Regions from separate parts of the Homo sapiens genome. Here regions 2, 3 and 4 are each linked to region 1. Evidence: fine-mapped expression QTL. A gene starts in region 1. Each other region holds a variant in brackets. All regions are shown on one strand. Distances are from middle to middle. Region 1 holds the start of NEURL1B (neuralized E3 ubiquitin protein ligase 1B). Region 2 holds the start of LOC105377727 (a long non-coding RNA gene). Region 3 holds the start of LOC105377729 (a long non-coding RNA gene). Region 4 overlaps NEURL1B (neuralized E3 ubiquitin protein ligase 1B).

Evidence for each region. PIP is the estimated chance that this variant, and not a neighbour inherited with it, causes the effect.
Region 2: its variant is fine-mapped to the expression of NEURL1B in whole blood (TOPMed, PIP above 0.99).
Region 3: its variant is fine-mapped to the expression of NEURL1B in lung (TOPMed, PIP above 0.99).
Region 4: its variant is fine-mapped to the expression of NEURL1B in whole blood (TOPMed, PIP above 0.99).

What each region holds. Positions count from the first base shown.
Region 1 is chr5:172,637,659-172,645,762 of GRCh38, reverse strand. NEURL1B (neuralized E3 ubiquitin protein ligase 1B) reads right to left here and starts at 4,500. Exons shown (of 5, transcript NM_001142651.3): 1 at 4,326-4,500. The coding sequence starts at 4,356. LOC107986478 (a long non-coding RNA gene) reads right to left here. Exons shown (of 3, transcript XR_001742996.2): 3 at 7,285-8,104. RefSeq lists a silencer at 4,449-4,738.
Region 2 is chr5:172,474,538-172,482,638 of GRCh38, reverse strand. It overlaps LOC105377727 (a long non-coding RNA gene), which reads right to left and starts at 3,588. Exons shown (of 2, transcript XR_941225.3): 1 at 3,035-3,588. RefSeq lists enhancers at 2,315-2,934, 2,935-3,556. The variant G/A (reference allele first, on the strand shown) is at 3,090.
Region 3 is chr5:172,612,462-172,620,565 of GRCh38, reverse strand. LOC105377729 (a long non-coding RNA gene) reads left to right here and starts at 3,724. Exons shown (of 3, transcript XR_941229.2): 1 at 3,724-3,800. It overlaps LOC107986478 (a long non-coding RNA gene), which reads right to left and starts at 2,894. Exons shown (of 3, transcript XR_001742996.2): 1 at 2,740-2,894. RefSeq lists an enhancer at 3,029-3,945. The variant A/C (reference allele first, on the strand shown) is at 3,572.
Region 4 is chr5:172,681,076-172,689,179 of GRCh38, reverse strand. NEURL1B (neuralized E3 ubiquitin protein ligase 1B) reads right to left here. Exons shown (of 5, transcript NM_001142651.3): 3 at 5,042-5,761; 4 at 2,884-3,009; 5 at 1-2,499. The coding sequence ends at 2,255. LOC107986479 (a long non-coding RNA gene) reads left to right here. Exons shown (of 3, transcript XR_001742997.1): 3 at 2,643-2,875. Among named protein-coding and RNA genes, the nearest start is that of MIR5003, 23 kb to the right of the region's middle. RefSeq lists enhancers at 5,002-5,502, 5,503-6,003. The variant T/G (reference allele first, on the strand shown) is at 4,736.

The DNA of each region.
Region 1 (8,104 bases):
GGGCCAGCTCCTGAGGGTAGCAAGCGATTCTGATTCTACAGAATCACTGATAGAGGTGGTTCTTAATGACCTGGTGGAAGGGAGGAAGATGGGACAAGACAAGCAAGGTAAAGCCCAAGTGAACGTGAAGTTGTGCCTGGGGAAGGGGGAGGAGAGGTAGAAAGAGAAGAGGCAATATCACTCCATGGGCCATCCATGCAGTATTGCCATGGCTGGAAGGAGGGTGACAAGGGTCGCTGTCCTCCCAAGAGCTGAGAAAGTCCAGATCCAGGGAAAACAGTGGCTGCCAGGCCCTGGGAGCAACACCACCCATGGCTCAGATGGGAAGTCAGGGAGCAGCAGATGTGTCCCGGCTAGGCTCAGCATCCACATGGCCCCTTATCTGGGCCAAAAAGAGAAAAGGGCTCTGCAAGGGAGGATGTCAGACTGTCTGGGGTAAGCGAGTGCTTCTTTGTCTGGATGCAGCACTTACAGACTGTCCACGTAGGTTAGGGGAGGCTGCTTCTCCCCTTACTCTGTGTCCTTGACCTCTCTGAGCCTCCACTTGCTGCCCTGTAAAATGGGGATAAATATAGTCCCTCTAAAGGGTTGTTATGAGGATTTCAAATAGATACTGTGGGTAAAGCCCTTGACCAAGGGCTTGATATAGAGCGGGATCAACACACTTTCCTCACTCCAAAGCTCCAGGATGCCCGGTTATTGAGCTAATACGAAAAAGCTGTTGGTTCGGTCAAGCGTGGGCCAACTTAATGATGAAACCCAACCTGTTGTTTGAATTTAGTGTATTCTCCAACCAGAGCTGCAGGTGAGCCCAAGAGGCGAGAAGGAAGGGATTGGAATGTGCTGTTAGGAGAAGGGGATGAGTCCCTCCCTCCACCTCCCCTCACTCTCATCCTGGAACGCTGCCCTCCCCTATCCCCACCTGCTTACACTTTTTTTCTCCCTTCAAATACCCAGATGAAGGCTAACGGACTCGAGAGAGAAGGACTACATGGTATGAGGAGTCAGACAGGTCTCAGTCTTTTAAGCCCAGCTTTGCCACTGCCTAACTGTATGCAAAGTGTCTTAATCTCTTTAAAATGGTGGAGAATGGCACCTTACTTTGCAGGGTTGAGTTGCAACTGGAAAGAGAGTGTAGAGCACACAGTAGGAGCTTAGTAGATGTGAGGTCCTGTGCTGCACGTTCTGTTTAAAGGGCATTTCTCTGAATATGCTGATGCACTTTGCAAGAGCTGCCAAGAGGCTTCCGCAATCGATCATAAACAACCTTCCCTTTCTTTGGCATTTCCTTATTGTATAGTGTAGCATGCCACGTGCATGGTGGGGAACCCAATAAATGTTATCTAAATCACGGGCTGGGAGGCCACAGCATGTCAGAATAAGAATGCAGGACTTTGGAGCTAAGTTAACCTAAATTGCAATCCCAGTTCTGCCAACTAGGTGAACTGTGTGAGCTGGGACAAGCCACTTTACCTCTCTGAGCCTCGGCTTCTCAACTGTAATATGGAGATGATAATGCCTACATTGCAGGGATGTTAGAAGAATTAAATTCATCCATTCATCCCATCCAACACGTACTTACTGAACATTTACTCTGTACTAGCCACTGCTCCAGGTGCTAAACGTATAGCAGTGAATAAAACAGACAAAATCTCCCTGGGGGAGACAGACAAGAAACTGCTAACTACACATACAGCGTGTCGCATAGTGACACGTGCTAAGGAGAAACTTAAAGCTGGGTCAAAGGAGTGAGTGGGGTTGGGGCAACAGCAGGCCCCTCGTTCAAGCAGAGACCCCAAGGAAGCCTGGTGGGAGCCATGGGGAGGAGGGCAGAAGAATGTGCCGGGGAGAGGGATCAGGAAGTGCAGAAGCCTTGAGGAGAAGCATGCTTGGCGTGTAAATGAAGCCACATATGCAGGAAGCCTGGCATGGAATCCAGGTGCTCAGCAAATGCCAGCTCTCTATTTCAAGTCCCGCAGAAAGAACCCCACGCATGTGTCCTTTTCCTGAGAACGAAAGCACAAGGATTCTACAGGGCAAGACTGTGCCAAGTGTTCCTTCAGCCTAAGATTCAGGCAACATTCGAGCTCCACCACCAGTTTTTGAGCCCTTGCCAGGCACCAGTCTCTGGGATGGGCAACCAGGGATACAAGATGATCAAGACAAGGGCTCTGTCCTCAGGGAACCGCAAAGAGTCACAGAGACAGGCAGTGACAATGCAGTCATTGCAACGATGAGCAGGAAAGGACTTCAGGCATCCAGATAGCAGAGCAAAGGATGAGACTGTGGGTGGTCAGGGAAAGCTTCCTGGAGGAGGTAACGACAACTGGATTTTGAAAGGCAGACTAGACAAGAAAGGACAATCCATGCATGGGGACCATCACATGCCAAGCACAGAGGTACAAAAAACAGCACAGGGTGTGCAAGAAACTCATACTGGTAGGTCGGAAAACAATTAACGGCCCTTCATATTCTTGGCATCTGCCACCCGATGTGACTCAGGAATTCCGGTTCTGACCCCTTCCTCAAACTCAGTGCAAGCTTCAATCCCCAGAGAAGAGTCTGAATTCCCCATACTTAGACACTGCAGTGGGTAACCAACCTTAACTGCCGGCTCCCAGACTAGGGTGGCCCAGTCCACAGAGAGAGAGTTGAGAGGGATGGAGAATACATAAATCTCTAGCTATATTTAGCCTGCCTGGCGTGTGTCTGTCCCTTTACGCACCCCAGGGCTGACCCACAGGTGGCAGAATGGCTTTTTACTAGAATAGTATAAACATTTTTAAATTAAGAAACCAAGGAAAGGGGCCTGTGCCGAGGTGCCTCATCCCAGTGTCTATGTGGCGAGAATATCTGCTGCCCTATTTGCCAACATCCCCAGATATCTCCTGACCCGCGGGTGGGTTCTCCCCCAACCTGGCAATAGCCCTGTCCACAGGAGGTAGAGGCCACCCTCCAGTAAGCAGACCTGGGTTCTAATCCCACCTCTGCCACTGACTAGCTGGTGACTCTGCTGATGATTACAGCTCTCTGGGAATTTGAACGTTTGAGTGCAGTTGCTCAGAGGCTTGTAAAGTAGGAGTTGGCTCCTCTTCCATAAGCTGACCCTGGGAATCCTGGGCTCAGCACTGTCCACTTCAACCCGCTCCAGGGGAAATTATTCTTTAAGAGCATGTAATGCCTAGAAGGGAGAGCTATATGGGAGTGTTATAGCAGAGATGGGGTGATATGTCCCTCTTCCAGAACCTCACACTAAATTAACCTCACAGCTGACTTGCTTCCCCATTGAGCCGAGCCTTTGTGCTTTAGACACACACACACTCCTCTCACCTTTTGCCCAAAGGATGCTACAAAGGCCCAGCCTTAAGACAAAATACTTCTAAATACTTGGGCGTGTGAGGGGAGGGAGGGCAGAGAGACACAGGTCCCACTCCAGATTCTCCCACTACTAGCTGTGTGACCTTGGGTGAGTCATTTCACCTCTTCTGACACTCAATTTTTTTATTTGTAAAACTGGGATACACATCTTTATCGCGAAGCTTCTTTGCATACCGAGCTGGGGTATGCAAAGTGCTGGGCACTGAACCTCCACGGGCACGCGCGGGCGCGGGACCGCTGATCTGTTCCCACAATTACCATGTATTTTCCAGTAAGGCCTCCTCCTACCCCGTTAACCTGCTCCGGATCCCCTCACTCCGGTCCCAGAAATTCTGGGGCGATTTTAACTAGGGGGCGATGCGATCTGCAGCAGCGACTCCGAGGGGGCGAAGGAGTCCCCAGTGGAGCGGACACCAGAGGGGGGCGCAACCGGGGTGCGCGTGGGAACGTGGCCAAAGCACGGCAGCATGTGCCGCGGGGGCGCTGGGAGGCTGGAAACTGGGGTGCCCCTGAGAGCACCCCTCACTCTCGGCAGCTGCAGTCTTGGCACCACGGGTGGCTTCTGACCGTCGGAAGCCCTGGCGAGCCCGGCTCCAGTCACCCCCACCCAGGTCGCCTTGAGTTTGCTCATCAGCGCCCTCGGGCTGGAACAAAGGCGAGGGGGCGCGCGGCATCGCCCCAGCGGCCCTTTTTGCGCATCTGGCCAAAGCCGGGAGAATGAGGACTGGGGTCCCCAAGGTAACCAGGACGCGGTACCCGCCCTCCCGGGGCGCAAAGCCCAGCCGCGGGGCGCGCGCCGAGCTGAGGTCCGGGAGGTACCGGAGACTCCAGCCCGCTGCGAGCCGAGGGCTCCAAGGGCCGTGGGGTAGCTCTCCAGAGTCACCCAGCGGGTCCCCCGGAGGAGAGAAGCCCGGCGCCCGCCTCCCGGGCAGGGCTCCCCGGCGTACCTGGCAGGGTCCGGTGCACCGTGTTGCCCATCGCTGCGTCGGGCGCGGCGTTGGCGGCGGCGCGCTCTGGGCGCGCGGAGGCTAATTACGCGGCGGGCCAGGGACCAGGACCGGGGTCGACGCTCCGGGGCATCGCAGCTGCACGGGCGAGCCGGCGGGCGGCAGCTGGGGCGGGAGCCGGGAGGGAGGCGGCGGCGGCGCCTGCGGGAGGAGGAGGCGGAGCCACCGGCCCGGGCCCGCCGGCTCCGCCCCCGCCTCCCACCGCCTCCAACAGTGCAGGGGCGGGGCCGCGGCCGCCGCATCTTTTGAAAGTTTGCACCAGGCGGCGGGAGAAGCACAGCCAAGCCTCCCGCCCTCGCCGCTCCCGCGCCCGGGCCGGGAAGGCGCGCAGGGCAGCTGGGTGCCCTCGGGTGCCAGGATCGGCAGTCTGCTGGCCTGTCACCCATTTGTTCTAACACTTTGAGAAGGCCCACTGTGTGCCAGGCCCTCTTCCAGGCGCGGGGCCCCAGCCGGCCGAGTCCTAGCCCCGGCAGACCTCTTTGGAGAGTGCTTCGGCCCCGGGGGAACTTACACAGAGGCAGACGGGCCCCTGGGACCATGTAAAGGGCTTGGAGACAGTACACCCAGGGTTCCCGGGTTTGGGTGGAGTCTTTTCTATCCCCTAGGCCAGGTACCGAGGAATAGAAGAAACCCAGTGTCCAAAGATTGGGAAGAGGGAACCCACATTCATTAATTTATTCGCTCATTCACTAAAATATTTATTGAGCACAGTCTATGCACCAGGCACTGTGCTGGGCCGGGTAGATACAGACAAGGTCCCCACTGCCCTGGAGATGGCATGCTGAAGATAGAAATAACAAGCAATTACGATCACATTATATAATAATCAAAGCCAGGAAGAAAATAAAACAGATCCCAGTAGAGTGAGGAGATGACATTGTTTGGGGGCATAGGGAGAATCTGGGGTGGGGGCACATAAGCTCCATCTGATGGACTAGAAGGCGTCGGCCATGAGAAGAGATAGGTAGAGTGTTCCTGGCAGAGGCAGTAACAGGCATTCCTCATTCAGGCACCTGGACCACACTCAGTGGGAAGTGCAGCTGTGCCCTTCTCGAGCTCCATTTCACAGGCTGGAACGCTGAGGCCCAGGAAGTGCAATGACTTCCCCAAGAAGACCCGATTCCAAATGAGCTGTTTTTTTCAATTCTATTTTTCATGCTCTTGTATCCCTTGAGACTTTATGAAATATGTATTATTACTTCCATTTCACAGATAGGGAAATTGAGGCTCTGAGAGTGGAAGAGAGGTGCCCAAGATCTTCCAATGGTACAGGGCAAAGCTAGCCTGAAGCTATGCGAATAAAAGCGGGGTATTCAGGAGACAGCCTTCTGCATCTCCGGTGCCTTCTGCTTACAGTACATGACCCATCCCAGAGGGTTCTAGGGTCTTTAAGGCCAGCTCCAAGCTTCCACTTCCGGGAAACCTTGATTCCCCACTCCCCCCTGACGTCATATGTCTGAACATAAGATTGCCTTGCATTTGAGTTACTAATTTCTCATATTACAGGTGCTCGCCCAGTGACTTAATTTTTAACCCCAAAGTTCTGTTTGAGAAAGGTCCGTTAGCGTGATCCTTTTTTTTTTTCTTTTTTTTTTTGAGACAGAGTCTCACTCTGTCACCCAGGCTGGAGTGGAATGGCACAATCTTGGCTCACTGCAACCTCTGCCTACCAAGTTCAAGCAATTCTCCTGCCTCAGCCTCTTGAGTAGCTGGGATTACAGGCACCCACTACCACGCCCCGCTAATTTTTGTATTTTTAGTAGAGATGGGATTTCATCATGTTGGCCAGGCTGGTCTCAAACTTCTGACCTCAAGCGGTTCCCCCACCTCAGCCTCCCAAAGTGCTGGGATTACAGGCCTAAGCCACCTCACCTGGCTGATCCTCCTTTAATCTATGTGACATTGGGTTGCATATGGAGGTCAGCAATATTATAAAGGGAATTGAGGGAATTTTCCTCAGATAAGGCAATGCAAACAAATATGACTTTGTGACGGCAAGGGTGAGAGGTTGTGAACAGGCCTTTTAAAGGCCACTTTCAGAGTACCTCAGTAAGTGGCCATGTTGTGCAGATCACAAATACTCACCTGCAGCAAATGAATCCCTACTGTCAAAATGTGATGCGGATTGGACCTGCGGTGGAGACACTGTGCCCAGCAGTTGCCTGACATGTGGATTCGAAAGGGCTGTGTGTTAGCCTCTGGATCTCTGAGAGTAGGACCTGCTCTAGTAAAAAGCTGCCCCCAACACACACGATGGTGACACTAGTGTCAAAGCCACACAGAAAAGAATTAGAATCAAATTGTTTCCTGAAATTTGAAACTGCCAAAAGCAATCTTTCCATATTAGTATTCTCTATGAGAATAATTGCAAATATGTTTATATAACTAAAGTAATAAATGAAATATTTCAAGTAGATGTCTATTTCATCTTCACCCCATTAAGTTTATATTATTCAATAAGAAAGTGCATCTTCTCATAGGGAGAATGGGGATTGCCTGTAATCTTTACTTGGATTACCTTATATTTGGGCACATACAGCAGTTGCTCACCCATCTGAGATCCCTCTGCACTTTGTGCTGTCCCCTCAATTACACCCTCAAGACAGGTGTTGTAGCTGTTACCTTTGCGTCCTCTCCACTGCCAGACAGGATGCTCCTGCAGGCAGGAAGAAGGCTGTAATCATCTAGGAAACCCCAGTGCCCAGAACAGGGCTGGCAGACACAGGTGCTCAATACACATTTGCATAAATTGACTGCAGAGATGCATTGCCCTGAGCTGAGAGAAAAACAGAAAAGAAGGAGAGAGGGAAGAAAGAAGGAATGGAGAAAGGTAATAAGAAGGGAGAGGAGAGAAAGAGCTGTGAGAGAATGAGTTTTTGCCATTAGTAGCCCTAGACCCTGGTGTGATGAATAGTAATATGTGCAGGGAAAAATAAGCAAATGAGCAAAATAGGGATGCATTAACAGAAATATAGTCTTTAGGACAAAGGAGGGGCTTGCTGCTCCAGTGCATGTTGGTTAGACCATTCCAGAAGTCGCTTTGGCTCTGGGCACCACACTAGAGAAGGAGGACAAAGCTAGTCCACGAAGGTGGAAGGGTGGCTTTGGGAGAGAGGGAGATCCCTGTCCCAGGAGGTGTGCAAATAGAAACCATATATTTCCTGCCAGGCAGTTGAGGAGGGGCTTCCTGAGTCACATGTCTTCTAAAGTATACCTTCCAGTACAATCATCCACTGAGCCCCTACAACCCACATGAAGCCATGGGGGTGATTTATGGTTTGAGGTTTATGAGTCTGATTGGTCCTGCCTCTACTGACCCTGAGAGGACTGCAGAGGTGCTCCCCTGTCTTTGCAGCTTGTGTACCAAGCTGATCTCCTGGGATGTGGGCCTCCCATTTTTGTTGCCTCTCCCAATCTCACCTCTTCCCACTAGCTCCCAAGCAGGGCTGGCCGGGACACTGTGGAAATGCTGTCTGCATGTATTAGGGGCCTGGGATCCAGGCACTATGTCTAACAGCAACAAGGGAAGGGAAGGGACTGTTGGACTCAGCACCTGCCGCACAGGAGACTTTATAACCACAGGGATGGAATGTGAATCTCTTCCTTCTCCAAATATTATAGTCATACCACATCCAAGGAGATAGGTTCTAGCATCCCCATTTTCCAAACGAGGACACCAAGCCTCAGACAGGTAAAGTCACATGCCTAAGTCTCTGCAG
Region 2 (8,101 bases), 160 kb after region 1:
CTGGGTGTGCTGCATGCGTGGACCTGTCCCAGGCCAGCAGCGTGGCTGGCTGCCAAGAGGTGAACACCAGGCAGCACCCAGGACCCGGCTGGACGCACCTGCCCCACCACCCAAGAGGCTGAAAGGAGGGATTTCACTTGCTAGAGTGTGGCAAAGTGGGATTGCATCACGCTTTAAAACCATCCACTGGTTTCCCATCACACTAAGAGTAAAATCCAAATTCCCTCCCTGGCCTCAAAGGCCCCACATCGTATTTCCTCCACTATCCCCAGATTCTAGTACTACTCATGGCACAACAGTGGACACAGAGGAATGTCTGTTCAGCTCATGCCCACATCTTCATCTTCATGTGGAATCTGAGGCCACTCAGACAGAGAAGAAATCAGCCTCATCAGCAGGAAGATACCCATCAGTTTTCCCATCTTGCTGTTATGTCTAAACTGATCTCTGGCAGATTATATAAGAAACTTAGAGGGCAGAGACTGTGACTTTTACATGCACAGGGTCTGAGTGCAGTCCTCCAGCTAGGTATTTAACAAGCACTTGCTGGTCGTGCAAACCAATGATGATGATGATGATGATGATGATGATCAGTCTGACAATCATGGAACAGCTGGAGATTGTGAAAATACAGAAAGCTAAGGTGGGGCCCTAACCTTGAACAGTTTATAATCGAAACAGACAAGCCACACAGAATGCTGATGATAATAGCACACACAGACAAAGGGCACAGGCTCCGGAGTCAGACAGGCTTTCATTTCAAACTCCAGCTCCACTGCTTGCTGCTGTGTGACCTGGAAAAATCCTCAACCTCTCTGTGCCTCTTTGTTCTCACCTACAGATGAAGATAGTCACTGTTACCTCAAAGGGCTATAAAAGCGTGGCTCAGCACACAGTAAGTCCTCCACAAATGATCATCAGGATTACAATTATAATCCTGATTACAACAGTTATGTTGTAAAAGAAAAACCTTACCATGTGGAGCAGCCATCCCCAACCTTTTTGGCACAAGGGACTGGTTTTGTGGAAGACAAAATACACGGTCCAAAACCATGGACAGGGCGGGGAGAGCAGGGGATGGTTTTGGGATGATTCAAGCACATTACATGTATTGTGCACTTTATTTCTATTATTATTACATTGTAATGTATAATGAAATAATTACACAACTCACCATCGTGTAGAGTAGTGGGAGCCCTGAGCTTGTTTTCCTGCAACTAGACGGTCCTATCTAGGGGTGATGGGAGACAGTGACAGATCATCAGGCATTAGATTCTTATAAGGAGCCGCAACCCAGATCCCTCACATGCGCAGCTCACAATAGGTTTTGTGCTCCTATTCAAATCTAATGTTGCCACTGCTCTGACAGGAGGCAGAGTTCAAGGGTAATGTGAGCGACGGGGAGCAACTGTAAATACAGATGAAGTTTCCCTCACTCACTTACCCACTGCTCACCTCCTGCTATGCGGCCTGGTTTCTAACAGGCCACAGACCCACACCAGTCCATGGCCCCAGGGTTGGGGCCCCCTGTTTTAGAGATACATATTATAATAGTTACAAGTAAAATTGATGAAACAAGAGTGGCCAGAAGTTGAAGACATAGCTGCAAGATCAGTACATTGGACTTCAAATTATATTATTCTCTATGTTTTTATTTGTTTTTGAAATTTTTCATCATAAAAAGTATATTAGGCCAGGTGTGGAGGCTTATGCCTGTAATCTCAGCACTTTGGGAGGCTGAGGTGGGAGGACTGCTTGAGTTCAGGAGTTTGAGACCAGCCTGAGCAATATAGCAAGACCTCGTCTCTACTAAAAAAATAAAAATAAAAATAAAATTAGCCAGGCATGGTGGTGCGCATCTGCAGTCCCAGCTACTTGGGAGGCTGGGACCGGAGGATTGCTTGAGCCTGGGAGGCAGAGACTGCAGTGAGCTTGATCACACCACAGCCCTCCAGCCTGAGTGACAGAGTGAGACTCTGTCTCACCAAAAAAATAAAGAGTATATTAGCCAGGTGCAGTGGTACACACCTGTAGTCCCAGCTACTTGGGAGGCTGAGGCAGGAGAATCACTTGAAGCCAGGAGTGCGAGGCTACAGTGTATGAGGATCATGCCTGTGATTAGCCGCTGTACTCCAGCCTGGGCAACATAGCCAGATCTCATCTTTAAAAAAAAAAAAAAAAAGCATATTTAAAAAGTTCTTCAAAGAACATGTAAGAAAGATACTCTAATTTCCCTGTTTTTCAGATGAGAATATGAGTCTCAGAGAGGTTAAGTTATTTGTCCAAAGTCACACAGCTCATGTGGCAACGGAGCCCGAATTCATACCCAGGTCAACAGGACTCTAGAACCCAGACTCTAACCATAACACCAGTCATCAGGAAAAAAATTACAAGACAACCAAAAATCGGTGCACATGTTCACTGAGAGATATATTTAGTCAAACAACTAAAAAAAGAACTGCTTTTAAAGGCCCAAACTGAAATGTAAATTGAAGGGAAACTTACTTCTTTCAATGATTCACTTGGGAGGAAAAAAGAAACTCTGCTCCTCTTTACTCATTTTCTTCAGTGCCTCTTTTTCTCTAAGGATCAGAGTTAGAGAGGGTGGTAATAAACAGTAATAGCAATACATGTGTCCTATCTTGCCACAAGGCCGGCCACTCTCCCTGCGTCTTCCAGAGGCTTCCCGCACAGGCCTGGGCACAGCATGGACGCTCCACAAAAGGCTGCCAATCTAAGACTGGTGGTGGTGGGAGGGGTGCACCCCACCATGGTTCCCTGGAGCCCCACAGTCTGGGTTCAAATCCAGTTTGCCCCTTGAGCTGTGTGACCTTGAGCAAGTCACTCTCCCGCTGGGACTCTTGCAGGGCCCTGAGCACTGTGCTGGACAAGTAGGCCTCACCGAGGAAGGGTTCCCCCCACCACCACTGCTCCTCCCTCTCGCAGAAGCAAGCCTTGCTGAGTAACACGAAGCATCAATCCAGCACCCTGTGTGAAACCATCGTAAGTTGTGAATGAGTGGAAATTGACTTACTAAGGCTGGGGCTGAATCATTCCCTGCATCTTCCGCATCTGCGGGGGCTCCCGGC[G/A]CAGAAGGCAGATGAATGGGCAGGGCGTGTGTCCCTGACAGCAGCAGCTCCAGCGTCTTCAGGTGCCACACTGCCTCCAGACGGCTTCCCTTTCACGGGGAGTGCATGGCGGGAGCTCACCTGTGTGCCTGGGGCATGTTCTTTGGAAGGCGGGGTCCCCAGCAGGGTGTTGGGAATGGAGGCAGTGGTCCCAGCCATGGGCAGCTCAGAAAGATCAGCTGTCTGTCCCCTCATTTCACACGAGGAAGCAACTGATTGAGAAACAAATTAGAATCTGAAGGGTTTGCCATTCATCCAGGACTCCCTCTGTCTGTCTGTCTGTCTGTGTGCCTGAGGATCGTTTGAAGGGCGGTGACAAAGCCCTCTGGTGGCGAGTCAGCCCGCTTCTCAGGGACGTCCACTGAGCACACGAGGAATAAGAAGGCAGTGAGTGCCCCCATCTGGCAGGAGTCAAGAATGTAGGACTCCTGATAAAAGATCCTAGAGGAATGACAATAGCCCCAAGGTGACATCATAGCAGGTTTAATGAGCACCTACTGTGTGCCAGGCTCATTTCATATGCTATCTCATTTAATCCTCACAATCACCCCCACGAAGCCCCATTTTACAGAAAAGAAAACTGAGGCTCCAAGGGGTTTACTGCTCTGGCCAAGGTCACTCAGTTATTCCATAGCACAACCACAATCAAACTCCGGGTCCAGGCTTTATTTGCCAGAGGGAGAAGGAGAGACGAAAAGAATGAAAATAACATTTATTGAGCATCATCTGTGTCCCACTTCTATGGACTGAATGGTGACCCCCCAAAATTCATGTTGAATCCCTAACACCCAATGTGATGGTACTTGGAGATGGGCCTTTGGAAGGTAATGAGGGTTAGACGACATCATGAGGGCAAGGAATTAACACCCTTGTGATGGAATTAACACCCTTATAAGAAAAGATACCAGAGAGCTCCCTCTCATTCTCCATCTTGTGAGGACACAGTAAGAAGGTGGCTGTCTGCACGTCAGGAAGAGAGTCCTCACCAGGATCTGAATTGGCCAGCACCTCCAACTTGAATTTCTAGCCTCCAGAACTTTGAGAAATAAATGTCTGTTGTTCCAGTCATGCAGTCTATGGTATTTTGTTACGGCAGCCTGAGCTGATAAGACAGCAGATAGCATGGCCCTCATGATAAGAGCAGCCCACACTTACTGAGTGCTTACTGTGTGCCACGCATGCAGTGTCTGAGGGCATTACCCAAACCACTGGTTTTCATTAATCCTCACAATAACCCTGCAAAGTAAGTACAATACATATCCTGATTTAGAAATGAGACACAGGGAAGATAAGTAACCCACTCCTGATAAAAGATCCTAGAGGAATGACAATAGCCCCAAGGTGACATCATAGCAGGTTTAATGAGCACCTACTGTGTGCCAGGCTCATTTCATATGCTATCTCATTTAATCCTCACAATCACCCCCACGAAGCCCCATTTTACAGAAAAGAAAACTGAGGCTCCAAGGGGTTTACTGCTCTGGCCAAGGTCACTCAGTTATTCCATAGCACAACACAGAAGCCAGAGCCTGTGTATGTAAGGGGCAGATCCGGCAGACAGAAATTACTGGCAATGCTAAGTGTGATCATGTGGTGTGCCAGTTCAGGTCCTCCAGGAAGTGGATGCCAAGATAGGATTCAATGTGCAAGAGAAAGAGATGTATTGGTGGAAACACCTGTGTAGGACAGAGAGGGAGCAGAAGGCAGCAGGGAGAGTTTGGGTGCTGTGCACATTTAACACCTAGGAAAGGAGAGCAAGAGGGAAGGACTGGGGAGGAAGAGCGCCAGACAGCAGCAGAATTCCGGGAATGTCTTGGCCAGGCTGATAGGGAGTTCCCAAGTCAAGGCGCTGATAGAGGAATCCCACATAGGGCAGGAATGGCCTGGTTCTAGTATTCCCACTGTGTTCAGTTGTGGCTGTGTCAAGTGTGACAGCAGAGTAGACCACTGGTGGGTTAAAAGTTACGGCCACTGAACTGTCCATCAAATGTGCTTCCCACAGTGGGTCCTCTTGAAGGGAGAGCTGAACAGAGCACCTTGGTGGCTGTCATGCTTGGTGTAGGTGGCATCCACCAGACCGCCCGGCCACTCCATTGTACCCTATACCTATTGTGATTGATCTCATGCATGGGACAATTCTTTGAGACCATGTGAATATTCTATACTCCAACAACCTATCTGTCTATTGGTTTTAGCATTTACTGATATGATCTTTGAACCAATTATGGGTTGCAAGATGATGATTTTCTGATCCTTTCATGGCTTTCGAATGCATTAGTTCTGTTGTTCTGTAAGACAGAACTCCCTTCTGCCTTTTTTAGTGTCACCATAAACTCATGGAGTTTTTCATTTACTATGTGATAAGCCATTCCCATCACTCTTCTTTCAATATTTCAGTTGTTCCCGAGTAGACCATCGGAGCCTCGTCCAACAGATCCTGTGTCCTTTTATTAATAGTTTGTCCACATCAGTCTTTGAGCCCTTCCTTTTGCTCCAGACTCACCTTGTATGTTCCCTGTCCATTACTTTGAGGAGTTGGTGAGGAATGGTCTTTAGAAACCAAGATCTGGGGAAAGGTGTCCTCACTGCTGTTTTAGTTAAATTTTAATTATTAGCTTACAATGATTGTTCCAAATCAAATTCAACACCCCAGGTTTCTCCCACGCTTTCCTTATGCCATACTTTTTTTTTTTTTTTTTTTTGAGACAGAGTTTTGCTCAGTCGCCCACACTGGAGTGCAGTGGCATGATCTCGGCTCACTGCAAGCTCCGCCTCCTGGGTTCACGCCATTCTCCTGCCTCAGCCTCCCAAGTAGCTGGGATTACAGGTGCCCGCCACTACGCCCGGCTAATTTTTTTGTATTTTTAGTAGAGACGGGGTTTCACCGTGTTAGCCAGGATGGTCTCGATCTCCTAACCTCATGATCCTCCCATCTGGGCCTCCCAAAGTGCTGGGATTACAGGCGTGAGCCACCATGCCCGGCCCCCTATGCCATACTTGAACCTCTCTTCTTCCACAGTGAGAACTCTGGCTGACAGTAACATCCATATATTAACTCCACTTCACAGTGCAAACGAATAACTACACCAATGCCACTACTGACAACTGCTCTACCAAGTTCATGGTTTAGTGGCGGTTATTTCATCCTTAAAATATAGCCCACTAAGAGTGTGCACGCACAGTCCTGGAATTACTTCCACTGTCAGTGTGGTTGCTATCAATTTGACAGGCAAGTTCGTTTGTTTCTATTGCTTTTCCCATCATTTGGTTTTTCTCTTTTTTGAGACAGAGTCTTGCTCTGTCACCCAGGCTGGAGTGCAGTGGTGCCATCTTGGCTCACTGCAACCTCCCGGGTTCAAGTGATTCTCCTGTCTCAGCCTCCTGAGTAGCTGGGATTACAGGCGCGTGCCACCACGCCTGGCTGATTTTTTGTATTTTTAGTAGAGACGAGGTTTCACCACGTTGGCCAGGCTGGTCATGAACTCCTGACCTCGTGATCCACCCACCTCAGCCTCTCAACGTGCTGGGATTACAGGCGTGAGCCTGTGGCCTCCCATCATTTTTATTTAATTTTGTATTCAGTAAATCATTTATATGGCTCAAAACTCAAAAATTGTAAAAAGATAGTGACTCTTTCATCTCTACCCTTTTCTCCCCATTTATTACTTTCATAGGTAATCATTTTCATTATTTCTGGACTTACTCTTCCCACATTCCATTTTTATAAATTGTAATGGTTTTACAAAAAAAAAATGGAACTTTTTTGCACTTAAAAATATATTTTGGAAACAACTCCATTCGGCTCATAGAAATCCTCTCAAATTTATTTTTTCATTAAATTTGAATTACTCAAGTAAACACAACTCTCATCTTTGTTTTTTAAAAGTTGAACATTGCATGCAAGGCTGAAGGCCTCTCTCACTGCCCTCCAACCTCCTAACCCTCCTGGAGCCCTCCTAGAGCTTGGTCTTCCTCCTCCAGACCTTTCCCCATGCAGGTATAAACTTCTATTTATTCTTGGAGGTTTCTTTGCATAGATGGTATCACATTATAAAATTATTCTGCGCCAGGCACGGTGGCTCATACCCGTAATCCCAGCACTTTGAGAGGCCGAGGCAGGTGGATCACCTGAGATCAGGAGTTCCAGACCAGCCTGGCCAACATGACGAAACCCCATCTTTACTAAAAATACAAAAATTAGCCAGGCATGGTAGCAGATGTCTGTAATCCCAGCTACTCTGGAGGCTGAGGCAGGAGAATCTCTTGAACCTGGGAGGCAGAGGTTGCAGTGAGCTCTCACTGCACTCCAGCCTGGGTGACAGAGCAAGACTTCATCTCAAAAAAAAAAAAAAAATATATATATATATATATATATATATATAGCCTTACTGTATTTTTTATCTTAATTAGAGTCTTAGGGGGGCACCCCTTTTAATTTTGCATCTGAGACAAATATCTTACTCAGCTCACCTTAATCCTGGCCCTGCCTTGTGCAATTATTTAACTCTTTTATGCCTCAGTTTCCCCATCTGTGAAATGGGAGGAATAATAGCACCTCCCTGACAATGTAAATAAGCTAAGATATGTACAGAGCTTCAATCAGAGCTCAGCAGGTGCTAGTTAAGTATTATCTATTATTATGATGGCCATCATGCCAGGCACATAGCACACAGTTAATGTTGGACAACAAATGAAAGCTACAGTAGCTACTGCATGCCTAAGAGTTGGTTCAGATCTCTTATAATCATCACATCAAACAAGATTTTGCCATAATTCTCTAGGAAATACCATGTACTTGATGTTTCTTTTTGCCCCACAATGATTTGTTTCCAATGTAATCTCACAGTTGTTTTATGAAGGATAAAAAGTTCCTCACTCCAATCATTCAGCATTCTTGTAAAACCCCATTATCGCTAGCCACAATTACATCTCGCCTCTTCCTGCAAGCTCTCTGCTACTCCGGGATCCCTGTC
Region 3 (8,104 bases), 25 kb after region 1:
CCCACTAGGACCTGCCTCAATTTTTGCTCCACTTCTTAGAAGCCAATGACCTAGGGCAGTTTGCTTCTCAGCGTCCACCTTCAGCTCGCACCTCTGTAAAACTGGTATCAAATACCACCTGGCTCTCAGGCCTGTTGCGGGGGGTGAGCATGTGTGGAATGTGGGGAAGTGGCCTGTAAGGGTTACAGGTGGGGACTATGTCAGGGTCCCTGGTAGGAATAATGAAAGGGACCAACATTTCTTACAAGTCTCTTAAAGAGCAGGGGTGCAGAGGAAGCAGAGGGATATTGGAGGAGACTGATATTCCTTGCGGCTGCACTGTGTGTCTGTTGTCCCAGTGCCTTCTGCCTTCCCAGCATCTGATCCAGGCAGCTCCTCCAAACTTAATGCTAACCCATCGCACACAACAACCTCTCCCCTCCACAGCACCTAGAGTGCCATCCACACAAATCCCATCATCTCACACTCCTGTTTAAAACACTTCAGTGACTCCCTATCATCCTGGGATCAAACCCCAGTTCCCACCTGTGACCCACTGATCTTGGCTTGGCCTGACCTCTGTTTGTCTTCTGACTTTATCTCTCCACTCTCAGTTCTGTCTCTCCAGGCACCTGGTCTTTCCCATCCCTCCTCCTTTGCCCAGGTAGCACCCTGAAGACCTCAAGGAAGCAGTGCCTTTACCTCCCTTCCCTTCCCTCCCCACTTGCTCCAACTTCATGGACCCCTCTCCACTTGTTCTTTTTGTTGTTTAATTTTTTATTTATTTATTTTTTTGAGATGTAGTCTTGCTCTGTCACCCAGGCTTGAGTGCAGTGGTGGAATCTCAGCTCACTGTAACCTCCACCTCTTGGGTTCAAGCAATTCTCCCGCCTGAGTCTCCCAAGCAGCTGGGATTACAGACACCCGCCACCACACCCGGCTAATTTTTGTATTTTTAGTAGAGACGGGGTTTCACCATGTTGGCCAGGCTGGTCTGGAACTCCTGACCTCATGATCTGCCTGCCTCGGCCTCCCAAAGTGCTGGGATTACAGGCATGAACCATGGTGTCCTGCCTCCATTTGTTCTTAGTGACAGTTTTCATGGGTCCCAGTGTGCATTTAATCATGAGCTTATTTGATTCTTGCCTTTTCCCCTAGTCTGTGAGCTCATGCAGGCAGCGGCCACAACCATCTACTAAGGTCTGCATGATGGTATCCCCCAGCAATTCCTCTCTGTTGGAATCCTAGTTCTCAATGTGATGGTATGAAGAGGTGGGACCTTTGGAAGGTGATTAGGCCATGAGGGATTTGCGCCCTTATAAAAGGGACCCCAGAGAGCGGCCTTACCCCTTCCACTGTGTGAGGACACAGCAAGAAGGTGCCATCTCTGAAACCAGAAAGCAGACCCTCCCCAGACACGGAATCTGCTGGCGCCTTGATCTTGGACCTCCCAGCCTCCAGAACTGGGAGCAATAAATATCTGTTGTTGTGAGCCACCCAGTCTATGGTGTTTTGTTATGGCAGCCCAAACCAACTAAGACAGCATCTGCCCGCTGCTATGTCCTTGGCTCCTAGCACAGAGCCAGCACACAGTAGGTGCTCAACAAATGAACAAAGGAACAGATGGACGAAGCCCAGAAGTCATTAGGTAAGAAGGACCCACTGTGTGCACAGAGCTGAGTTAAGCAGAGTGAGGTGAAGGTGAGGAAAGACCATCTTTGGCTCACCGGGCTAGCTGTTTCCAGAAAGGACTCATTTAGCCTCCTGCATCCCCCAGAGGAGGAGACCCCTACTCCATTTCTGAGTCAGGGCTCCTGGGCGCCATTCCTTGGCCCAGACACAACTTGCTGTGTGACCTGGGCAAGTCCCTTGGGCTCTCTGGGCCTCATCCCTCACCTGGGAAATTATCATACCTACTTTTGCGTTGTTGAGGATGAAGGGAGTGATTGGAGGCAGAGTGGCAGGCCCTAGGCCTGGCGCATAGCACGTGTTCAATAAGCGTTCCTTCCCTTCTTAGCAAATAAGATGTAATTCAGTCTGTCAGAACATATTTCTCATAGGATTTTTATCTCTAGTCACACTAGCTTGCAGGCTTTAAAAACCACATTAATACCATATTTTTAAAAGCTGTTCTTAGAGGAGAAAACGAAGGGAAGGGAGGAAGACATTTCTTTTTTTTTTTTAGGGCCTCAGTTTAATTTTTTTTGTTTACCTATATATTACAAAGGACATTACGAAGGATGTAGATGAACACCAGATGCTGAGAATGACAGAGCAAGATGTGGAGTGGGGGATACAGCGCTTCCCTGCTCTCTCTGGGCGTCCCACCATCCCAGCCTCGCCCATGTGTTCAGCAACCCAGAAGCTCCTCAGTTTAATTTTTAACAGAAAGAAAACGTACTGGGGACCCCACGGACCGCAGCTCCTCCCACACGAACCCTACACCCAAGGCAGGACTCTCCTTATGTCATGTGTGGCCCCCGCACAATCTGGGAAGACTGTGAGGTTGCGGGCGCGGAGCTGCTCAGAGAAGGCTTCCGGGCCGCAGTCGCCAGGCAGGGACGGGACAGAACGCCCCGGGTCCCGGTTGCTGGCCCAACCCCACCTTGAGGCCGAGGAGCTCGAGGGCCGAACTGCGCCAGAACTCGGGTCCCAAATCCCGAAGTCGCCTGCAGGGAGCCTGGGGTCCTGCCACAGCCGGTTCTGGCCGTTTCCAATCAGCCCCTGCCGGATCTCGGGTAGCTGTCCCCAAACACTCACCATTTCCAGGCTTCCAGGTGTCCTGGCTTGGGGGGAAGACATTTCTTCTTGAGTTCGATTTAGTGGGAAATGATGGTTCGAGTTAGAAAATTCTTTTTTTTTTTTTGAAATGGGGTTTTGCTCTTGTTGCCCAGGCTGGAGTGCAGCGGCGCGATCTCGGCTCGCTGCAACCTCTGCCTCCCAGGTTCAAGCAATTCTCCTGCCTCAGCTTCCTGAGTAGCTGGGATTATAGGGATCCACCACCACGCCTGGCTAATTTTTGTATTTTTAGTAGAGACGGGGTTTCACCATGTTGGCCAGGCTGGTCTCAAACTCCTGACCTCAGAGGTTCCTCCTGCCTCGGCCTCCCAAAGTGCTGGGATTATAAGCGTGAGCCACCACGCCTGGCTGAGTTAGGAAATTCTGTTTGGGTCCAATCGGTGGAACTGTGAGGAAGGCACAACGGGAATGACCAGGGGCCCAGGGCCAGCTTGTGCAGCTGGAGATACAGGGAGGCAGCCGAGCTCCCCTGGGCCTGCAGTCCCAACGTGAGGGGCACTCCTGGCATTAATTGTGTCCCTAGGAGGTCTCTGTGGAAAAATAGCCAGTGTGGGTCCCTAGGGGAATAAAATAGGGGTGGGGAGACACACGGGCGTGTGTGGGTGTGTGCAGGGGGGGATTTTGTGTTATACCTATGAAGCGTAAACCTCCTCTACCTGAAAGAAGCTGATAGAATCGGGGAAAGGGGCGCAGAAAGAAAACAGCGAAGCCCTGTTTTTCCAGGGCTTGGGTGAGACTGTGAGTCAGCGGGTGGATCAGGATAGGGAGAGCTCCAGCTGGAGCCGCTCAGAGC[A/C]GCCCTGGGTCTCTCAGGGAGACTCACGGGGGTGGCCTCAGGCTGGAATGCGCCCCTCTGCGTTCCTCCCACGCCCCCAGCGCAAATCAGCTCCGCAGGAAGCTCCACTGACCGCCTCCTCCTTCAGCGCTGATGTCATACAAAGGGAGCACCCACTGCGTGCCACACAGCGTGCTGTGACAGTCACTTGACCCCGGTATCTCACTGAATCCTCCTAACAGCCCAAGAGGTAGGGAATAGTATTCTCCTTTTATAGATGAAGACATTGAGGCTCAGGGAAGTTAAGTCACTTGTCCAAAGCAGCACAGAAAGTCAGTGGTGGGGCTTCTGGGGGCTGTAGAAACTTTCCATGGACAATTTGACAATAGGTAGTAAGAGCCCTTTTGACTCCAGTTGCTCCACTATTAGAAACTGAGGCAAGGAATATACCTGGGCATCAACATCTCAGCTCTAAGGCTATCCTGGGCAGCATTCTTCATGATAGTGAAAAACTGGAAACCACATTTCAACCACAGGGGATTTGTTAAATAAACCCCAGCGATGGAATACTACACAGCCACTAAAAATGGTGGACAGATGTGGCTTGCTAATGTGGAAAGCATTCACAAACGACAGAGACAAGGTTTGAAGTTCTGAGATTCCATTCCTGGCTCACTCACTCACTAGCTGTCAGGCCTCGGGCGAGAGGTTAACACTTTCTTCATTTTAAAATGGGGATAGATCAAGCATTTCAGGGCTTTTGTAAGAATTGTAAGTGGATGAGTTAATATGTGTAAGTGCTTAGATTAGCATCTGGTGTGTAGTAAACAACTATGAACGTTCACTATTAGATCTGGGTTTAAACAATGTCAGCTATTCTTTCTTCAGATGTTTCTTCTGTCCTTCACTCCTCTAATTACACATATATTAAGCTGCTTGAAGTTGTCTCATAGCTCACTGATGTGCCATTCATTTGTTAAAAAAATTATCTTTGTGTTTCGTTTTGGATAATTTCTTTTGCTTTTTTTTTTTTGAGACAGAGTCTTGCCCTGTTGCCCAGGCTGGAGTGCAGTGGCTCAATCTCAGCTCACTGCAACCTCCACCTTCCGGGTTCAAGCGATTCTCCTGCCTCAGCCTCCCGAGTAACGGATGCTACAGGCGCCCGCCACCATGCCTGGCTAATTTTTTGTATTTTTAGTAGAGATGGGCATTTCACCATGTTGGCCAGGCTGGTCTCGAACTCTTGACCTCAAGTGATCCACCTACCCCCCAAAGTGCTGGGATTACAGGTGTGAGCCACCACGCCCGGCCTCTTTTGGATCATTTCTATTGCTATGTCTTCAAGTTCACTAATATTTTCTTGTACCATTAATCCCATCCAATGTACTTTCTCACACAGGAAGTTTTCATTTCTAGAAGTTTGGGATTTTTTTGGTTACGAAATTTATTTTTTAATTTTTAATTGACAAATACAATTGTATGATTTATGACGTAAAACATGATGTTTTCATATATGTATACATTGTAGAATGGCTAAATCAAGCTAATTAATATATGAATTACCTCACATACTTATTTTTTGTGCTGAAAACACTTAAAATAGACTCAGCTATTTTCAAGCATACGATATATTGTTATTAACTATAGTCACATGACATACAGAAGCTCTCTTGAACTTATACTTCCTGTTGAACTGAAATTTTGTGTCCTTTGACCCACATCTCCCCACTTCCTCCATCCCTCAGCCTCTGCTAACCATTTTCTGCTTCTATGAGTTTGGCCTTTTTAGATTTCACATATAAGTGAGAGTATGTGGTATTTGTCCTCCTGTGCCTGGCATATTTCACTTATCATAATGTCTTCCAGGTCCATCTATGTTGTCGAAAATGATAGGATTTCCTTTTTTTTAAAATGATAAATAGTATTCCATTGTGTATGTACACCACATTTTCTTTATCCATTCATCGATGGATGGACACTTAGGTTGATTCCATAGCTTGAGTATTTTGAATCATGCTGCAATGAATATGGCAGTGCAGATATCTCTTAACATACTCACTTCATTCTGTCCTGTAGGTTATCTGTTCAGTCTGTGGATTGTTTTCTTTGGTGTGCAGAAGCTTTTTGGTTTGATGTAATCCCACGTCTATTTTTGTTTCTGTTGTCTATGCTTTTGAGATTATATTGAAAATATCACTGCCCAGACCAATGTTGTGGAGCTTTCCCCCTATGTTTTCTTCTATTAGTTTAATAGTTTTAGGTGTTACATTTAATTCATTTTGAGTTGATTTTTGTACATGGCGTGAGATGAGGGTCTAATTTTATTCTTCTGCATGTGGATATCCAGTTTTCCCAATATCATTTATTAAAGAAACGGTCTTTCTTCATTGTGTGTTCTTGGCATCTTTGTTGAAAACCAATTGTCTGTAAAAGTGGAGGTTTAGGGGCCAGGCATGGTGGCTCATGCCGGTAATCCCAGCACTTTGGGAAGCTGAGGCAGGGGGATCAATTGAGGTCAGGATTTGGAGACCAGCCTGGCCAGCATGGTGAAACCCCATCTCTACTAAAAATACAAAAATTAGCCAGGTGTGGTGCACACATTTGTAACCAGCTACTTGGGAGGCTGAGGCACAAGAATCACTTGAACCTGGGAGGCAGAGGTGGCAGTGAGCTGGGATTGCTCTACTGCACTCCAGTCTGGGTGACAGAGTGAGACTCCATCTCAAAAAAAAAAACACAAAAGTGTAGGTTTATTTATGGACTCTCTATTCTGTTCCATTGATCTATGTGTCTGTTTTTATGCCAGTACCATGCTGTTTTGATTAATATAGCTTTGTAGTATATTTTGAAGTAAAATAGTGTGATGCCTCCAGCTTTGTTCTTGCTCAAGATTGCTTTGGCTCTTTTGGGTCTTTTGTGGTCCCATATGAATTTTAGAACTGTTTTTCTATATTTGCGAAAAATGTAATTGGAATTTTGATAGAGATTGCATTGAATCTGTCAATCACATTGGGTAGTATGGACATTTTAACAATATTAATTCTTCCCATGTATGAACATGAGATATCTTTCCATTTATTCATGTAACTTTCAGTTTCTTTCATCAATGTTTTATAGTTTTCAGTGTACAGGGCTTTCACCTCCTTGGTTAGATTTACTACTAAGTATTTTATTTCTTTTTGTAGCTATTGTCAATGGGATTGTTTTCTTGATTTCTTTTTCAGATAGCTTATTGTTAGCATATGGAAACACTACTGATTTTTGTATGTTGATTTTGTATCCTGTAACTTTACTGAATTCATTTATTCTAATAGATTTTTTAGTGGAGTCTCTAGGATTTTCTTTGTGAAGCCTCTGTGCCCCCATCAAGATTTGTCATCTGCAACCAGAGATAGTTTTACTTCTTTCTTTTTGATTTGGATGCCTTTTCTTTCTTTCCCTTGCCTAATTACTCTAGCTAGAACTTCCAGTACTACGTTGAATAGAAGAAGTGAGAGTGGGCATCCTTGTCTTGTTCCAGATCTTAGAGGAAAAGCTTTCAACTTTTCACCATTGAGTATGGGGTCTAGAAGTTTATTTTATATCTTTCATGTCTCTAATTAACTTTTCAAACATACGAAACACAGTTACAATAAATGTTTTAACGTCATTGTGTGCTAATTCTAATATCTGTGTCAGTTCTGGGTCAGCTTTTATTGATTGATTTTTCTCCTCATTATAGTTATATTTTCCTGCCTCTTTGCATGTCTGGTCATTTTTTTCTTTTCTTCTTCTTTTTTTTTTTTTTTCTGTTAGATGCCAGACATTGTGAATCTTACCTTGTTGGGAACTGGATATTTTTGTATTCCTGTGTTCTGGGACAAAGTTAAGTTACTTAGAAACAGTTTAATCCTTTCAAGTCTTGCTTTTAAAATTTAATAGGCTGGATCTGAGCAGAGTTTAGTGCAGGGCCAACTATTCTCGGCAGCTGAGGTAAGACTTTCAGTAGTATCCTATCTAATGCTCTGTCAATCATGAGGCTTTCCAGTCTGGCTGGAGAGAACAGGTGCTGGTCCTGGCCCTGTGCGAGCACCAGGCGCTGTTCCATCTAAGTCACTTGGGTGGCTCTTTCCCAGGCTCAGATAGTTTCTTCACGTGCATGCACTGGTCAATGCTCAGCTGAATACTCAGGGGAGACCCTCCAACTTTCCCTGGAGGTCTCTCTCTCCATGAGCTGTCTTCTGTCCAAAACTCTGTTGTGTGAATTCTAGCAGCTTCAACCTCCTTGGACTCTCAGCTCCATCTCTTCAATCAGAGAGACTGTTGGGGTCTCCGTTGTACTCTATGCTATGGCCTAGAAACTCTCTCCAGCCAGTAAGTAAGCTTGGCCTCATTTGTTTCCTGATGTTCTAGGATTGCTCTTCTTTGTTGCCCTATGACCAGTGTCTTGAAAACCATTCTTTTGTATATTTTGTCTGGCTTTTGGTTGTTTCAGATGGGAGGGTAAGTGCAGACTGTGTTATTCCATTGTGGTCGGAAGCAGAAGTCCTGCATTAGCTGTTATTAATGAATGAC
Region 4 (8,104 bases), 43 kb before region 1:
ACCTCCTCTTGGAAACAGGGAGGCTATTTATAGCAGCTGCAGAGCAGGTTGAACGGGCCACTGACTCGCTTCTTCCCAGGTCACAGGTGGCCAGGAGATGCCTGGTCCACCTCTGGGTCCAGGCCTCAGTCACTGGTTTCCCAGTGGAGGCTGGACGTGACCCCGGCTGGAACCCAAAGGGGCAGCCAGGAAGGGCAGGAGAGTGGAGCTGCTTTCCCCCAGGCCACTGAGACCCCACAGCTTGTGGCTGGGTCGCAGTGTAGACAGGAGACGGTTGTCTGCAGCACCACAGGCCTGGGGTGAGGAGTCCTCCCATGCAGGGCCTGTGCGTGGCCCCGCCCACACCCAGCACATGCAGGAAACCAAATTCAGCCAGGCACCCAGGGCTGCTGGATTCTCAAACTCTTATCTTGGCAAACACTGTGGTTCCAAAAGCTGCTCAAAAGATTCTGCTGCAAAATTAAAATGTGGGAATTTCCCCAGATTTTCTAGGGAAAAGTAAATAATCAGGGATTCTTGATGGGGCAAGAGAGTGGGGACCTTAAGTTGGAATCAGGTCAGACAACTGTGATTACTCCCAGCTAGAGGAGGAACAGGAGGCCCCAAACCACCAGCAGCGCATGGGCACCAGCTGGTCTGTGGGGCTTGATCTGGTGAAGGCCTGGCCCAGCTTTGCTCTGGGCACCCAGACACCCAGCAGTGTTTGTTATATGAATGCATCAACTCCCCTGCCTTCCTCTCCCTCCTTCCCTCCTTCAGCAGGACATGAACAGATTAGGAATTGTACTCCAAATGATACTTGCTTTTTGTAAGGCGTCTCAGGCTTTTTAGAACGTTGTACTGGTCCTCCCAAGAACTCCTGGAGTTGTCAGGTTCTAGACTTCTAATTGGGAACTGAAAAATAGACAGGCCAAGGGACTTCCCTAATGGGACAGCACAGAAGAGGGCAGAGGTGGAGCCCAGAACTGGGGGCAAGAAGGGAGGGACAGGCCTGGGCCAGCCCATCAGCCCAGATGTGATCTGGGAGTCTGCAGAGATGGGCACGGCTGAGGGGGTGGGGCAGGGTCAAGGTCCCAGGAAATACCAGCAGGTAGGTCTGGGAAGGGAGAGAATCCCAGTGCCAGCATTTTTCGTTACTGTCTCGATCATTAGTTAACATACTTATCAGTGAACACTTTAGTAACCAGCGGAGGAAGATACACTGAGAATCAGAACAAAGACCAAAAGTTATAACCAAAGTTATAAAGCCCTCGTTCCTCCTCCTGCCAGCAGGTCCCCTGGGAATGCCAGGCCCAGGGGCCACCACAGGAAGGTAGAGAGCTGTCTGCATCGTGGAGTGGGCTTTCCAGCTCCAGGTGGGTCACCTGCCTCTAGGATTCTTTCTCTCCCACAGAAAAACAGAACTTACTGCTGGTCTTCTCCTTGGAGATAGGGAAGGGCATTACAGAGACTTGCCTCCAGAGACGGAGACAAGGTATGATGTGTGTATTATTAGACAGTCTGGGGGTGAAGGGGTGAAAAGATGACACAATCCAGAGGGGTTGGCCTCGGTGCCCATCACACCCAGCTCTAAGACCCAGTAAGAAATGAAGAAGTGAATTGTTCTTCACCCACCTTCCCCTCAAGGAGTTCATGCTTTGGAGCTGTAAACAATGAGTTATTTTTGCCTCCCCTTAGAAAATCTGAGCATCTCTTTTCTACACCACCCCAGGGAGTTCTGTGAGGGTCAGCTTCATACATTCAAAACCAGCTTATGTCCCATCCCCAGAAAGTGAACAACTTCTAGTCATGCCAATGTCGGGGCTCCGGATTGCACGTCTCCTCCCGGAGCCGGGACCCCTGGTAAAATCGCTACACGTTCATTCTCTCTCTCTCTCTCTCACACACACATTCTCTCTGTTCTCCCTCCCTCCCCTCCCCTTCTCTCACACTCAACCCAACCCCAGCAAGAAGCATTGCACAGACAGAGGACGCTGTTTCCCAGTTGAAAGGTCACCAAGGGACAGGGTGATCTGCCAGGCAGTTCCTGAGCTTGCTCTTGGGACGGCCTTTTGGGGGCAAAGCACTTTGGAGCCAGAAGCAACCCCTGCCTGGGCTGAGGCCCTGTGGGCCTCGCTCCACGACTGTCACACCTTGCCCACCACTGGAGAGATGGCCGCTGCCCGTGGACTCCCTGGCAGCCATGTGGTTGCCCAGCCCAGGGGGCCTTCAGAAAGGTGACCTTGCACCGGCCAAGGCCCGTGGGCAGGCTAGGCTATGGCCTGTAGATCTTAATGACGTCCTTGATGGGCCGCCGGCAGATGGGGCAGCAGGCCCGGGCCTGTCGCTTGAGCCGCAGGCCGCAGCTGTGGCACAGGCACATGTGTCCACACGTGTAGATGACCGTGTCCACCTCGCCATCGAAGCACACCGTGCACTCGCCATTCTTGATGCCTGCCGGCTCCGGTGGGGAGAACACGGGGGACACCGGGGGGCTCAGCGGGGAGCTGGGGGCCGTCACTGCCGAAAGGGAGAAGAGGACATATGTTAACAATGTCTCTCTCAGGTGGGCTCTGTTGGGGCAACCCCGAGAATGCAGGGCTTCTTGCTGGGACCGGTGGGAGAATACTTTTGGGAGATACTAATTTGAGTTTACCTTGCAGGTTTTGCACCTTTCTCTACTCTTCTACTCCCAAACACCAAGATAAAATGCCACCATCGTCACCCTTTGGAATGCCCTATCTAGACACTTCTCCTCCCTCCAGCTGAGCATACAGCTGAGGGAAGGAGAGGATGCGGGGGAAAGGCGGCCACCCTGCTCAGTCCCTGGAAGGCCACTGGCACAGCCGGAGGAGCCAGGCCAGCCGCCAGCCCCTGCCCCTGCCAGGGTTTGCATTTCCTTACCCAGGGATGACTCAGATGCCGAGGAGGACTGGTTGACACTGAAGGTCATATCTGAATCACTATCGTCCTGGGAGCCGCTGAGGGACCCTGATGGAGTCGTGGTCGCAGGGCTGGACTGCAGGGTACCTGAGGCCCAAAGAGATTCCATCAGGGGCAGTGGAAGGTTGGACCTGCCCTGCTAGTCCATGGTTCTTCACTGCTTTGCACCTTAGCTTTCCCGTCTAACGAGAGGACCAGAGGTATCTCCCAGGGTTCTGCTGAGGAGTGAAGAGTGCATCCCAGTGTGGTGCCTCTGTTCTTTGTCTACCAGGCCTCTATTCTCTTCTCTTTCAGAAACAGCCCTGGGATGTTCTTTTGGGATACTAATGTGCCCTCCCTCATAGGATAAGGGCCAGGCCAACAGGAACTTCCACTCTCTGGTCTCAATAGTGGTGGTTCAGGAAAGGGCACATAACCCCCGTAAGGCCCGAGACCCAATTCTGCAACTTTTACTGGAACTACTAGGAAAGAAGGAACTCATTCCATTCATTGGGAAGGAAGCCTGGAGCTGGAAGAGCCAACCCGTGGCAAAGGCCTGCCTGAGAGTGATGCCAACACAGAGGCAAGCAGAGCTTTGAGTTGGAAAGAGAGGTAGGATCCTGCTGATATCCTTCCAGTACCTAGATCCAGCTATTCCTGAACTCACCCAATATACTCCCAGACATTTCCTTTTTTGCTTAGGGCACTTTGAGTGGGGTTTTGCCCCTTGCGAGAAGATCCCTGACTACTAGTGCTCAACATGGATGAGTTTTCTTCCCCAAGCTTGCTGTTGGTTCAGACAATAACAGCTTGTTTCTTAGGATGAAAAGATGCCCCTTCCCTTGCCCTACCTGAGGATGAATGGACAGATAATGGGCACTTCGTCTCGGGCTGAAATGATGACTATGTCTGATGGTTCCTCAAAAACACAAAACAACACAACTTCCCCCTCCCCAAAAAACACTCTGACCAAATAACCACACTGCCACCCGGCTCCTCCTCTGCCCTCATGAAGACAGCAACAGCTGCTGTTGTTACTGTTACCACTGATTAAACCAGTGTCAGGCCCCGCTCAAGGCATTATATGCACATGATTTCATCCTCATGACAACCCCATGAAGCAGGTATCACTCTCTTTCTACAGAAGGAAACAGGCTCAGGAGAATCTGTGATTTGTCCAGCATCTTCAAAGCTGACCAGCGATGTGACCCTGGGATAGTCATTTAATCTCTCTGTGCTCATTATCTTATCTGTAGGTGGGGATAATGATACTGATTTCAATAGAGTCAAAGGGAGGATAAAATTCAATGAGGGAACATATGAGCTGTTGACTGCTTCTTATTGCTTGGACTCTACTTTTTGAGCCATGAAGTTGGAGCCAGGCTCTCTGGGAAGCCTTCTCTGAACATCTCCTTCACTCCACCAAGCTGGGAGAGGAGCCCCCGGCTGTAGCAAATGTCACACCGTGCAACTCTCCTTTAGGGTGTCTGTGAGCTCCTAACCGGCATGGAGTGTGTCCTGTCCTCTGCTGGCCCTATCCTGGTGCCCAGGGCCCGGCCCACAGCTGGTGGCTGCTCCTGCCTATTTGTGGCATGAATGAAGGCAAAAATTATCTCAAAATAGGATGGTTCAGGCCTCCATTCCACTTTCTGTGGACGATACTATTCTTATTTCCTCTTTCATGTGCAGTCGAATTTATTTTTTCCCTACACTTACTGTGCATTACATGTTAAAAACACCCTAATGTAACAAATCGTAACAACGGAACTAAAAATCGCACCGACCATTTACCGAGGGGATATAGCCTGCCAAGCTCGGAGATAAGCCGGTTACC[T/G]ATCTAGGTCGGTGGTTTACAAAATGTGGTCCAGAGAGCCGCAACGTCAGCATCTCCGGGCACTTGTCGGAAATGCACGTTCTCGGGGCGCACCGTGCACCCACTGAATCCGGAACTCTGGGGTGGAGTCCGGCAATTTTGGACGGGGTGGATCGTGCCCGGGCGCTTAAAGTTGGGAACCGCGGGCTGGCCTCGGGCGGTGCAGCGCCTAGCGAGAGGGGCGGGGCCGGGGAAGAGCGCAGCGGGGTGAGACGGCACGGGACGGGGGAGGGGCGGGGCCTCGCGCACGCGGGGCCGGGGACTCACCGAGGAGACGCAGCTGGCCCGCGACGCCGCCGCGCACGGCGAAGAAGGCCCAGAGCGCCTGCGTGGTGTCGACGCACAGCAGGCGGCCGCGCGGACGCCCGTTGATGCCCAGGAGCACGTCGCCGCCGGGCCGCAGCGTGAAGCTGAGCGCGTCGCCGCCGCTCGGCACGGGCCCGGCGCGCGCCACCACCCAGTACTCTTTGCGGTCGAGCAGCGCGTCTGGGTCGGCGGGCAGCTCGTTGGGCCGTAGCACGCCCGGGTCGCACGACGTGATGCCGAAGGCCAGCGCGCCGGGCGCCGCCAGCCCCGGACGGCCCACCTCCACGAAGAGGCTCTCGCCGGGCCGCAGCGGGCGCTCGGAGAAGACCAGCGTGCGGCCGCCGTCGGGCCGCGGTGCGCAGGCCACTTTGCGGTCGGCCGACAGGCTCACGTCGGGCCCGCGTGTTGCGTGGAAGCGCAGGTCGGCCTCCAGTAGCGCCGGCGACGACGCGGGCCGCGGGCGCTCACGGGGCCCGCACGGAATGGCGGCGGCCGCGGCGTCGGCTGGCGGTGGGCCCGGGGCGCGGCCCAGCGCCAGGTGGCCCAGCTTGGCCACCACCTGGTTGTTCTCGAGCTCGTTGTTGTCGAAGTTGGCCGCGTCGTGGCTGCTGGGCGGCAGGCAGGCGCTGAAGCGGGCCTGGCTGAGGCGCGCGGGCGTCAGCGTGTCAGCGAAGGCGCTCTCTGTGCGGACAAAGGGAGGGACATGGAGGGGGAGAGGCCGCGCGTCAGGCTGGTCGCGAGCCCCTCCTCGCCCGCTGCCTCCTGCAGGCCTCCACGACCGACCCGGGCCTCGAGCAGCCCCCACCCCACCCCGGCTTCGAACTCTCCTTTTGTCCATCTGTGTTATTTAGTGAGTCACAGGAGCACAGAATTGCATTAAGCACCATCCTCGGTTTCCTTGACATGCTCTTACCTTTGGGAGCGGCAGATAAGGCCCTTTTTCCCCTGCCTCCTCCTTTCTCTTCTTCCATCCCTCCTTTTCTCTCCACCCTTTCCCCTTCTCTCCCTCTTTCCGAGGTTTCCATACTTTGATCATTAAAAGGGCATCTAAAAATCGTTTATTGTCCGTCTCCCCAACTAGAACATAAGCTCCAATAAAAAGAGCAAACCTGTACTCGTGGCCTTACGCAACGGGCACTTCTAAGCTTTCGCGCGCTACCTCATTTAATTTACACAACCACTCTGTGAGGCATGTACGGTTACTGCCTGCTATTGAGCTCACAGGGAAACTGAGGCACAGAGGGGTTGGGGAACATGACCAAGGGCACATGGCTACTAAGTGGCAAAGCCCCGACTTGAACCCATGAGTTGAACCCAGGCTGTCTGGCTCTAGAGTCTGGGCTCTTCAACACATGCTGCCTCTGAAAGAAGGGAGGACCTGGGTCTGTCCTCACTGCTGTGTTCACAGCACAGAGCACAGTGCCTGGCCCTGGATAGGTGTTTAAGCATTGACAGAAAAAAGTCTACGGGAGATTGAGTCAGTTGATAAAACTAAATGAAGGGAAAAGAAATTTTTTTTTTTTGAGATAGAGTTCCGCTCTTGTCACCCAGGCTGGAGTGCAATGGCGCGATCTCGGCTCACTGCAACCTCTGCCTCCTGGGTTCAAGTGATTCTCCTGCCTCAGCCTCCCGAGTAGCTGGGATTACAGGTGCCTGCCACCACTCCCGGCTTAATTTTTGTATTTTTAGTAGAGACGGAGCTTTGCCATGTTGGCCAGGCTGGTCCTGAACTCCTGACCTCAAGTGATCTGCCCACCTTGGCCTCCCAAAGTGCTGGGATTATAGGCGTGAGTCAGCACGCCCGGCCGAAGGGAAAGTTCTTTAAAAGTTACAGTTATGAAAATATTTTAAAGTACTTTTTAGTGATTTGAAAAAATGTTCTTCATATGACATAGGTAAAAAAGCAAAAATAGTGTTTATCATTTGGGTAATACAGGTATTCGTACTTTAGTAGATTACCTGTTTATTTTCTGCCTCCCTAGCTGGAATATGAGTCTCTTGAGGGCAGGGTCTGTGTCAGTCTGGTCACCACCATGTTCTCAGGGCTTGGCAAATAGCCTTCACTATTAATAGTTTATTGGATGAATGAAGGAACGACTAAGGTCTAGAAGAGACTGCTATGCTAAATAACAACAACATCAGGAAAGAGTCATTAAAATATTGTGAAGGTGTTTTTTAGTGATACAAACATTTTTGTTTACCATAATAGGAAAATAAGTGTTTTAGACTTTTTAAACAGACCACTTTGAGCCAAGATTTTGTTAAATGTTACCATTCTATAGTGTCTTGAAAAATATTTCCTCTTTAGTTTTCCAAATATGAAATGAAATCATAAGAATGCACATGCTTTTTCGAATTATGCCCCAGGCCCCGGTGGGTCCAAATGCACCCCCTCAGACACCTTTCACTTAAACTGGATTTATAGCACTTGGGAAACCAGTAAATCTGGCAGTAGGACCTGAATTCTGCCCTGGCCACAATGGGCTAAAGAAGCTTGCCCTTGTATTGAGGTGGTTTGATCTCTCTTGATGTGCCTGAGGTGGCCCTCTTCAAGGTCTCAGCAAAAGGGGTCAGCTACTTGTTTGGACTCTGGGCATCTGAGTGTGTATGCTTTGCCTTAGCGAGGGTGCTTCCCATAGCTCGAGGGAAGAAGTGGGGTTTCAGTTTGTTTCTTTAAAAAAGTACATATGTGTGCATTTGTCTACATCTGTCTGTATCATTTTATTTATGTGCATAGGAAATCAAGTGATGGAGAGACAAAATATTAATAGTAATTATCTCTTGGGGTGAGATCATGAAGGACTTTTCTTTAGATTTTTCTGTATTATCTAGTTTTCCTTCAATAAACTTGTATGCTACTGATATGGTTTGGATTTGTGTCCACCCAAATCTCATGTCAAATTGTAATCCCTAGTGTTGGAGGTGATTGGATCATAGGAGTGGACTTCCCCTTTGCTCTTCTCATGATAGCGAGTTCTCACGAGATCTGGTTGTTGAGAAGTGTAGCACCTCCCCCACTTCACA